Homo sapiens: one gene and its partners. The protein of the gene in region 2 purifies or fractionates together with the protein of the main gene of each other region. This does not show direct contact. Each region holds a gene or a part of one and is shown on either strand. Other genes may lie near its edges.

Evidence for each region.
Region 1: the proteins of DIS3L (region 2) and EXOSC8 purify together in Homo sapiens (affinity purification with mass spectrometry; 6 studies listed by BioGRID and IntAct, with this or other methods). This does not show direct contact.
Region 3: the proteins of DIS3L (region 2) and EXOSC5 purify together in Homo sapiens (affinity purification with mass spectrometry; 5 studies listed by BioGRID and IntAct, with this or other methods). This does not show direct contact.

The regions. Positions count from the first base shown.
Region 1 is NC_000013.11:37,003,557-37,006,949, reverse strand, and holds part of EXOSC8 (exosome complex component RRP43), read right to left. Parts: intron 2,435-3,393; coding exon 2,389-2,434; intron 1,031-2,388; coding exon 925-1,030; intron 836-924; coding exon 790-835; intron 1-789. UniProt on the Homo sapiens protein: Non-catalytic component of the RNA exosome complex which has 3'->5' exoribonuclease activity and participates in a multitude of cellular RNA processing and degradation events.
Region 2 is NC_000015.10:66,296,568-66,300,067, forward strand, and holds part of DIS3L (DIS3-like exonuclease 1), read left to right. Parts: intron 1-3,500. UniProt on the Homo sapiens protein: Catalytic component of the RNA exosome complex which has 3'->5' exoribonuclease activity and participates in a multitude of cellular RNA processing and degradation events.
Region 3 is NC_000019.10:41,387,273-41,391,001, forward strand, and holds part of EXOSC5 (exosome complex component RRP46), read right to left. Parts: intron 2,634-3,729; coding exon 2,493-2,633; intron 332-2,492; coding exon 242-331; intron 1-241. UniProt on the Homo sapiens protein: Non-catalytic component of the RNA exosome complex which has 3'->5' exoribonuclease activity and participates in a multitude of cellular RNA processing and degradation events.

The DNA of each region.
Region 1 (3,393 bases), on a different chromosome or scaffold from region 2:
AAATTAAAGTCTTCTAATGGGTAGAACATGCTATTAGCTTAGACTTAAGAACCACAGAACCCTTGGTTAAACAAGCAAGATAACTTTCAAGGCTCAAAAACCTTAAGAAAATGCTTCACCTTTTTAAAGTTCTATAGAAAACCAGAAGAAAGTGGACAGGTTTTGTGAAAGCTGGCTTTTGATTGCCAGGCTGACAAATGACAAACATGTCCATTTCCCTTAATGGAGCTACAGATGTAGAAGGAATTTCCATTCTCATTGGGAGGTTACAGATAAGGGAGATGGTTTTGAAAGCCCTAGCTAAAATTCAAAATGCACGTTCTCATAATACATGAAATGTTTAAGTTTTACAGTGCTAATGTATCAGTTTATATGATCTAGTAGGAAAGCCTCTCTAGGTTCTAATCAACCTAGTTTTACATTTTCAAATAGACTTTGGAATCTACTGTGTGGATTCACCATAAACATATGTTAACATGATTAATGTTATAATCTGCTATAAGGAATAAAAAATGATTGAACTTTAAAAGTTAAGGGGGAAAAAAATTACTTCAGTTTAAAAGGTAGCTCCCAGACAGGCAGTAAGTTAGTCAAACTTGTTTTTTTATAAACAATATGGTTCATTTAGAGAATTATAGAGTAAGAAATTACTGAATCTCTAAAATCTGTAAGACATCCATATTTAAAGCTACTTTGATTGGTGGTTTTAATTTCCTTGTTCACTTTCCCCCACAAAAAAAAAATCCCTTCAGAATTAATAAGAACTTATAGCTTCTCTATTCCTCTTACCTTTCCTGGAGAAATGCATAAGTCCTCTTTCTGAATTATCTGTGAACTTGATTTAATGACAAAGAGCAAAGTAAATGAAAAGCCCAAAACTATCTGAAAATGAATTGTAATAAAATTTTATCATGGTGCTCTTACTTTTCAATGACATCTGCAATGAACTGGCTAGCCACTTGGGCCTCTTCTCCAGGAGGTCCAGACCGGAATCTCGATGAACACAGGGGTGGTAGATCCACATTAGGAACTGAAAGAAACACTCTGCAGCTATGAACTAAACCTTTTTTTTTTTTTTTTTTTTTTTGAGATGGAGTCTTGCTCTGTTGCCAGGCTGGAGTGCATTGGTGCGATCTCAGCTTACTGCAACCTCTACCTCCCAGGTTCAAGAGATTTCCTTGCCTCAGCCTCCCAAGTAGCTGAGATTACAGGCACACGCCACCACGCCCGGCTAATTTTTTGTATTTTAGTAGACAGGGTTTTACCATATTGGCCAAGATGGTCTCGATCGCCTGACCTCGTGATCCGCCCGCCTCAGCCTCGCAAAGTGCTGAGGTTACAGGTGTGAGCCACCATGCCCGGCCTAAACTTTTCAATTTATGGATTACTGAAGTGTTAAAGGTATTATCAATCCACAGTAAAGGCAACTGTGGCCATGGACAGGCTCTTCTGAGTAGAATACATTGTAACATTATAGTTATATTCTGTTTGGTCTCTCTAAGACTCCCAGCCATGAAATTTCTATTTTTCTGACATTTTTCCCCCATATGCCTTTTTAAAAAATCTATTTTAGACCTCAATTCTAAATCCTTTACGAGTTTTCCTGGTATCTTTCAAAATACCTCAATCTGTAACTGAAGTATATATAGCCCCTCTGCTAACATCCAACTGTTTTTCTCATTTAAAAAAAATGTTGGTTCCTACCATAAAGAACAGATGGTTCCAAGGCAAGAAAAAAATAGCAGTTGTATAAAGCAAAGAATCTTTATGGAAACAAAAGGTGTGCAATGACAGTTCTTTGACTTAAAAAAATTCCATTCTATTTTTTTTTTCTTTTGAAACAGGGTTTCACTCTGTCACTCAGGCTTGAATGCAGTGACACAATTATAGTTCATTGTAGCCTCAACCTCCCAGGCTCAAGCAATCCTCCTGCTTCAGCCTCCCAAGTAGCTGGGACACAGGTGTGCACTGGCACACCCAGCTAACTTGATTTTTTTTGTAGATACGGGGTCTCCTTTGTTTCCCAGGCTGGTCTTGAACTGCTGGGCTGAAGCGATCCTGCTGTCTTGGCCTCCCAAAATCCTGGTATTATAGGTGTGAGTCACCACACCCAGCCAAAATTCTATTTTCTTGGTTAGTAACTTATGAATGTATAAACAAAAATTGAGCAAACAAGTTTGATAAAGGTTAAATTTATGAAATTCTATATCCTGCTATTATGCTATCTTTTACTAACACACGGAAAACTTTTGAGGAATTTGTTTTATTCATAAATATTTCCGAATATTAGGAATAATTTTCTTTACATCAACTTAACTAGGACTTAACTAAAAATTATTAAATGTGTTAAAAGTATTTGTATTAAAATTACAAAACCATTTAACTTACCAACGTATCCTTTATCAGGGGCATCTGTTGATGGTGCTGCAAATTCCTATAGTAGCAAAGAAATGTTTCCTATTGAAAGAAGCTACTGAAAAATTATGAAGACAATTTAGCAATCAGTTATGGAAGGCTCTATCAAATATCAGCTTAGGGAATTGTGTCAGGGCCTCTACGGACATTGGTGCTGATCCTCACAATAGCTCTACAAGATAAGAAGGCACTACAGTACAGTGGACTACACTACAGTGCTGCTCGGCAAGATTACCTGGAGATCTTTTAAAAAATAGTAACTGGGTTTGTGCCCCCAACTACTAGCCAAGAATCTTAATTTGTTCTCCAGATGATAGAGCAAGATTTAGGAACTGCTGCTTTAGTGGTAAAGAGCAAAAGCTCAGCTGGGCGCGGTGGCTCACACCGGTAATCCCAGCACTTTGGGACACAGAGGCGGGCGGATCACCTGAGGTCAGGAGTTTGAGACCAGCCTGGCCAAGATGGCAAAACCCCGTCTCTACTAAAAATACAAAAATTAGCCAGGCATGGTGGCGGGCGCCTGTAATCCCAGCTACTTGGGAGGCTGAGGCAGGAGAATCACTTCAACCCAGGAGACGGAACTTGCAGTGAGCTGACATCGTGCCACTGCACTCCAGCCTGGGCGACAGAGCAAGACTCCGTCTCAAAAAAAAAAAAAAAAGCAAATGCTCTGCAATTACTAAGCCAGTTCAAATGTCAGAGCCATACTTACTGGCTGAGAGACTTCAGGCAAGTTATTTAACCTCTTACCTTAAACTCCTCATCTTGTCAAATGGGAAGAAAATAGTGTCTACTCCTAGGGACTGTTAATAAGGGCCAAATGAGATAGACCTGTTAAATCCCAGGCATAAAACCTGACAAGGAGCAAGTTCTCAAATCTTACTGTTATACATCACTCCAGGTTTACGAAAGAAGAATCTCAACTGAGGTTAAATAACACAGGGTATACTGTAGTCAAAGAAGCACAGGCTTTGGAGT
Region 2 (3,500 bases):
GTACAGTGGCGTGATTTCGGCTCACAGGTCACTGCAACCTCCACCTCCCGGGTTCAAGTGATTCTCCTGCCTCAGCCTCCTGAGTAGCTGGGATTACAGGTGCACGCCACCACGCCCGGCTAATTTTTGTATTTTTAGTAGAGATGGGGTTTCACCATGTTGGTCAGACTTGTGTTGAACTCCTTACCTCATGATCCGCCTGCCTCAGCCTCCCAAAGTGCTGGGATTACAGGCATGAGCCACTGTGCCCGGCCCAAAATCAGTCTTAGTCCCTCTAACAACAAACCTATTGTCTTGCTGGGGTTAGATAGAAGAAACAAGACAGTTATTATGAAGCGCCTTAGACACACGAAGGATAATTTAACGTGGACTATGCAAAGTGCAGAAGTAAACGTGGAGTGGAGCAATTAGGCCAAAAAATCCTTTGGGGGAAATGGATTTGAGACTGGTCTTTAAGGCGTATTACGAGTATGATTGAAGAAGAGGAAGAAATCAGCAAATTTGGGACTTGGCACTTTGTTTACCTGTTAAGCAACCAGCAGGTGCCTTCAGGTTGACATAGCTAAATGACCCAAATTGTCTGAGCACTAGAAAGTGTCATTTCTTAAAGGCTAACTTTCAAATTAATAATAGGCATTGAATACATAAGATCTGAGAGATGTGCTTGATTAATTCAGCCTTCCTAAGTGTTAAGTGTAAGTTATTTGACTTTTTTTAATTGACAGATTAAAATTGTATGTATTTGGCCAGGCCTGGTGGCTCATACTTATAATCCCAGCACTTTGGGAGGCCAAGACAGGAGGATAACTTGAGCCCAGTTCAAGACCAATCTGTGCAACATAGTGAGACCCCTGTCTCTATTAAAAAACTTATTTTTAAAAATCATATATATTTATGGTATACAACATGATGTTTTAAAATATGTATACATTGTGGAAAGGCCAAATCAAGCTAATTAGCATATGCATTACTTTACATACTTAACATTTTTTTGGTGATAATTAACTTTTTATATTTAACTGAACTTGGCCTAGCAGAAGCTCTCTAGTGTTTTGTTCATTTAATGTTGGGGAACATTTTGTTTTGTTTTTCATTTCTTCCTTGGACATTTTTGAGATGCAAGTAAATAATTCATTTTATCCAATATGCTTTTAGGAACATTCTTGGTTAGGAAAGTTTTGTCAGTTAATAATCCCTGGTCCTGTCTGGTGTCTGGTGTAGGATGCTTTGCTTGTTCCTTTTGACTCCCTCCTGAATTCCTTCTGTATAGCTTCAGAGAGTCTCCATATTTCATGCCTCAGTTTCTTGATGGTATATAAGATGGGAATCAGGCCAGGCTGAGTAGCTCATGCCCATAATCTCAGCACTTTGGGAGGCTAAGGCAGGTAGATCACTTGAGGTCAAGAGTTTGATACCAGCCTGGCCAACATGGCGAAATCCTGTCACTACTAAAGATACAAAATGCGCGAGATGACGTGGCGCATGCCAGTAATCCCAGCTACTCAGGAGACGGAGGCAGGAAAATCGCTTGAACCCGGGAGGCGGAGGTTGTGGTGAGCCGAGATCATGCTACAGCACTCCAGCCTGGGCAACAAAAGCAAGACTCCGTCTCAAAAAAAAAAAAAAAAAAAAAAAAAAAGATTGAAATTGTAGAATATTATGGTTGGAGAGATCTGAAAGGTCACATGATCTAACTCCCCATCCAGTACCTCAGTGTTCTCAACATGAGTGATATATCCATCTTGTTTCTAAAAGAAAAAAATCCTCCTGGATACCCAGTGTTATTTTCTTCTATTGTTATTTAAATGTGTTTAAACATAAATCTCGGTATAAGTCCTCATGTTTAAGTACTTTAATACAACCCTAGTGTAAGCTAAATAATCAAAGTAACAAAATCAGAAAACCGCAAATGAACATTATTCAACGTGACAGATAACATTGTTTTGCTGAAACAAAATCACCAGAGTTAGGTTTAACAATGGAAAGACACAGCCTTTAATCTGGTTATATTTGTAATAAGATTTCCTATTTTGACTTCAATAATATCAATGCAGAGAATGCTTGTTCTCATAAGTGTATTGCACAGAACAGTATGACTAATGTCAGGTCTTAAGTCGTTCAGGATAATCACATGTTCTGCCATCTAATAATCTTCAAATAAATGCTTATTTAATGAGGAGTCCCCCTGACAACTCTGTAAGGCTGTTTTGTCCACCATGTTCATGTGTTCACATGTGTGTTGGTTTATTCAACAAATGTTCACCAAGAGACTATATGTGCCAGAAACTGCTAGCACTGAGGGTACAGTGGCGAACCAAAGCAGATGGAGTCCTGGCAGGGTGACAGGCAGTAATCGGGCAATTACACAAACAGATGCAGAACTGCAACTGTGACAAATGCACTGAAGCACAGGGATGGGGCGCCAGGAGAGCCCAGACCACCCAGGGAGGCAAGGAAGGGCTTTTCTGAGGGGGACGCCTAGGTGGAGGTCCAAGGGTTGGCATAAACCAGGCAGAGTGGAGGAAAGCTTTCAAGGCAGAGGAAAATGCCTGGGGCCCATGGGGAGGGGCCTGTGGCACACCCCAGGAGCAGAAAGAATGCCTGGGTGGGATGGAAGGCCTCATGGCCTCAGGGATGTCAGGGAAAACTTTTAAGCAAAATGGGATAACATGATCAGATTCCTGTCCTGAAAGGATTACTCAGCGGTGGTTCACACTTGTAATCCCAGCACTTTGGGAGGTGGAGGTGGGTGGATCACTTGAGGTCAGGAGTTGAAGACCAGCCAGGCCAACATGGTGAAGCCCCATCACTACAAAAATCCAAAAATTATCTGGGCGTGATGGTGGGTGCCTGTAATAATCCCAGCTACTCAGGAGGCTGAGGTGGGAGAATTGCTTGAACTTGGGAGGCGGAGGTTGCAGTGAGCCACGATCACGCCGTTGCACTCCCGTCTGGGCAAAAGAGCAAAACTCCATCTCAAAAAAAAAAAAAAAAGGGATTACTGGGCCAGGTAGAGAAGAGGCCTGGAAAAAAGAAGGGAGGAGGCTTTTGCTTTAGTCCAGATGAGGGAATGTTGGTAGCTTAGAGATAGAGAGAAATAGATGTTTCCAAGGAGTATTTAATAGGTAAAAATATATAAAACTTCCTAAGTGTATAACTAAGAGAATTGAAAACATGTCAACATTGAAACTAAAAACATCATACACAGCCGGGCGCGGTGGCTCACGCCTGTAATCCTAGCATTTTGACAGGCCAAGTTGGGCAGATTGCCTGACCTCAGGAGTTCCAGACTGGGCAACACGGTGAAACCCATCTCTACTAAAATACAAAAAATTAGCCAGCTGTGTGTGATGCACGCCTGTAGTCCTAGCTACTCGGGAGACTGAGACATGAGAATTGCTTGAACCTGGGAGGCGGAGGTTGCAGTGAGCCAGGATCGCTCCACTGCACTCCAGCCTGGGTGACAGAGCAAGACTCCATCTCCAAAAATAAATAAATAA
Region 3 (3,729 bases), on a different chromosome or scaffold from region 2:
ACATGCCCTCTTCTGACTTCAAACTGAGCTCATCCTCTTTTTGCCTGTGTTATAAATTGGGCTTCCCTTAAACATTTCCGCAAAGGTTTCTGGGTCCACAAAGTTTGAAAACTCCCTTTTTACAAGAAGAAATTTAAGAGGCTCTCCTGAAGCCTCTCAGAATCCAGGGCAGAGTTGGGACAAGACCGTATGTCAGTGGGAAGGAAGGTTCTGGCTTTTCCCCTCATCCCCATGCTGGTACCTCAGTGTCTGAGTAGAGCCCCTTGGTGCTGGACATCAGCAGCTTCCGTTCCACGCTGTCCAGGGCAAAGGTCAGGACTGCCCGGGCCTCCTAGGGACAAGGGGTAGAAGGCGGTGGGGGACCTAGGACCTTCCCCTCAGATAAAATCTCAGCCAGTCCTTTGGCCAGGCACAGTGGCTCATGACCATAATCTCACCACTTTGGGAGGCCAAGGCAGGGCACTGCTTGAGGCCAGAAACTCAAGACCAATCTGGGCAACAGAGGGAGACCCCATCTCAGAAAAAAAAAAAAAAAAAAGGTAGCTGGGTGTGGGGGTGCATGTCTGAGTTCCCAGCTACTCAGGAGGCAGAGGTGGGAGGACTGCTTGAGCCCAGGAGTTTGAAGCTGCAGTGAGCTGTGATCGTACTACACTCCAGCATGGGCGACAGTGAGACCCTGTCTCAACGCTCCCCTTCCCACCACACACTTGCAGCCAGTCCCACTGAGGGGACTCCGGACCCTTGGCCTCCAGGCCTCTCCCTTTCCATAGCCAGGCGCTCACCTATCAAGCATCAAGCGCAGCCATTTTTTGTCTACGCTACCCCTTCCCTACTTCCCTGGGTATAGCCCTCTGCCTTTCCTTTGTAGAACTGTACTCCATGCCCCTTATTCCAACCACGTGGTTCTGACAGGGGCTTCCAAGCTCAGTATTCCTGCCCCAAGGGGCTAGCCATAGTGCCACTCACTTATCTGGTACCTCTCGGCCTCCCAGTCCCCCTTCCATGCTCTGTCCCACAGGGGCTGGAAGCCAGCAAGCTGTATTTCCCAGACTCCCTTACCAGCTAGTTTCCATCAGTAATGAGGTGGGAGAATGGAAGAAAAGCAGCACCCTGGTCCTCATGGACAATGGCAGGTGCTGATGGCTGTGGCTGTGTGACAGCCATGGAGGTGGGGTGGGTTCTGGACCTCAGTGGCCAGGGCAGAAGCAGGACATGCTATGTGCATCCAGAACCAATTGAGATGATGTCTCCAACACGACAGAACAGGAGGTGGCTCGCAGGTTCAGTCCAGGTCTGGGAGGGGTTTCTCATCTCTGGGTGTCACTCCTGCTTCCTTTTTCCTCCTCTAGTTCCTCAACACTGTTGTTACAAAGTCCCTGCATTTAACTCCCTCCATCTGAAACCCTCCAAGTGGTTTCCGTCTTCTTGACTAGAGGGGACCATTATAGCACTGGGCAGAAAACTCAGAATAACTTGAGCTTAGGACACTGCACCTGAGCCGATGAGGAAAACTCTCTTCTCGTTTGCTTTTGAGCCTCCTAGGATGGAAATGGAGCTTAAGGGGTCAGTCCCAGCCTCAGGAAAGGTGCTGGCCAGAAAGAATGAAGCTGATGTGCAGAGAAAGGCAGGGACGAGAAGTGAAGCAAGGACATCCTGATGGTGTTTAAAGTCCTGGTTTTATTTTATTTTATTTTTGAGAGTTTCACTCTTTCATCCAGGCTGGAGTGAAGTGGTGCGATCTCAGCTCACTGTAACCTCCACCCTCCAGGTTTAAGTGATTCTCCTGCCTCAGCCTCCTGAGTAGCTGAGATTACAGATGTGTGCCACCATGCCTAGCTAACCTTTGTATTTTTAGTAGAGACAGGGTTTTGCAATGTTGGCCAGGCTGGTCTTCAACTCCCAGCCTCAGGTGATCTGCCTGCCTCAGACTCCCAAAGTGCTGGCATTACAGGTGTGAGCCACCACACCTGGCCATACATTTCCTTTCTAGTTTATTTATTTATATTTTTTGAGATGGAGTTTCACTCTTATTGCCCAGGCTGGAGTGCAATGGCGCGATCTCGGCTCACCACAACCTCCGCGTCCTGGGTTCAAGCGATTCTCCTGCCTCAGCCTCCTGAGTAGCTGGGATTACAGGCGTGCGCCACCACACCTGGCTAATTTTGTATTTTTAGTAGAGATGGGGTTTCTCCATGTTGGTCAGACTGATCTCGAACTCCCGACCTCAGGTGATCCACCCACCTCAGCCTCCCAAAGTGCTGGGATTACAGGCGTGAGCCACCGCTCCCGGCCCCACATTTCCTTCCTAATTAAGCAAGTCTGAGCTGGGTTTCCAGCACTTGCTGCTAAATGAACCATGATGATTAGAGCAGCCCTTGCTAAGTGGGATTGAGGTGGCATGAGCCGACTGTCTGTAGAGAAGCGAGGCCTGGAGGAAGGGACGGGCAGCTGTCTGGCCTCTGCCCTTCAGCCACCCTGGTCTTCACACCTACCTTTTCTTGCTTGGATGTAGGATCCAGCACGAGGGTCCCATCAGAGTCCAGGGCGCAGGCGACCCCACAGAAGAGAGCCCGCATGGGCACACCTGCATCCACCAATGCCATGCAGGCGGCATTCAGACAACAGGCCAGGAGCTGAGCACCACAGGAAATGGTTAAGTTTCTTTTTTTTTTTTTTGGAGATGGAGTTTCGCTCTTGTTGCCCAGGCTGGAGTGCAATGGTGTGATCTCGGCTCACTGCAACCTCCACCTCCTGGGTTCAAGCAATTCTCCTGCCTCAGCCTCCTGAGTAGCTGGGATTACAGGCACCCACCACCACACCCGGCTAATCTTTGTATTTTTAGTAGAGATGGGGTTTCACTATGTTGGCCAGGCTGGTCTGAAAACTCCTGACCTCAGGTGATCCACCTGCCTCGGCCTCCCAAAGTGCTGGGATTACAGGCATGAGCCACCACGCCCAGCCTAAGAAGTTTCTACTGTAGGCCTGGCCAGCAGAGCAGATCCATGCCTCCCTCCACCAGGCTGATGCCTATGGCAGACATCACTAATCGGTCACAGAAGGGCAGTATGGCAGAGTGGTTAAAAGTGGTCCGGGGATCAAGTAGCCCTGGGTTCCAGACCTAGTTTTGCTCAGCTGTGTGACCTTGAACAAGTGACTTACTCCTTGAGTCTCAATCTCCTCATCTGTTAGATGGGGAATATAATAATATTCAATAGGTATGTACTGAAGTACGTACCACACATTTGTTGGCAAATAGGGTCAGAGAGGGGAAGAAACCTTCCAAAGACACGAGGGGGAGGCACTGGCAAAGCCAGGCCCGAAACTTGGGTAGCAGCCACTCCCCGGTGACAGAGCTGGCAGGGCAATGGAGGAAGAGCCACCTCGCTGCTGCCTGCAGGAAGCTCACAGTGGAAAGAGAGCACAGGTTGGGAGTCAGCTGGCTCTGCCTCAGTTTCCTAATGTGTTTCTTCTCCAGGCCTAGCAGCCAGACAAAGACCACAGCTTTAGTCAACCGGTTCCAGCTCTGCTGCTGATCCTCCACGCCTTCCTCTGGGCTTCACTTTCCACTTCTGTAAAATGGGGTCACAATACCTTCTCTCTCTGCCCATCCATAAAATGTCTGTCCAGTTCAGGGCCACGTTCCAGTAAAGCCTTCTACAGTGTCTAATTCTAGTCCTCAACCTCAACCTCTCGCACCTCAGACATGGAGATCTTACAAGGCCACGCTCC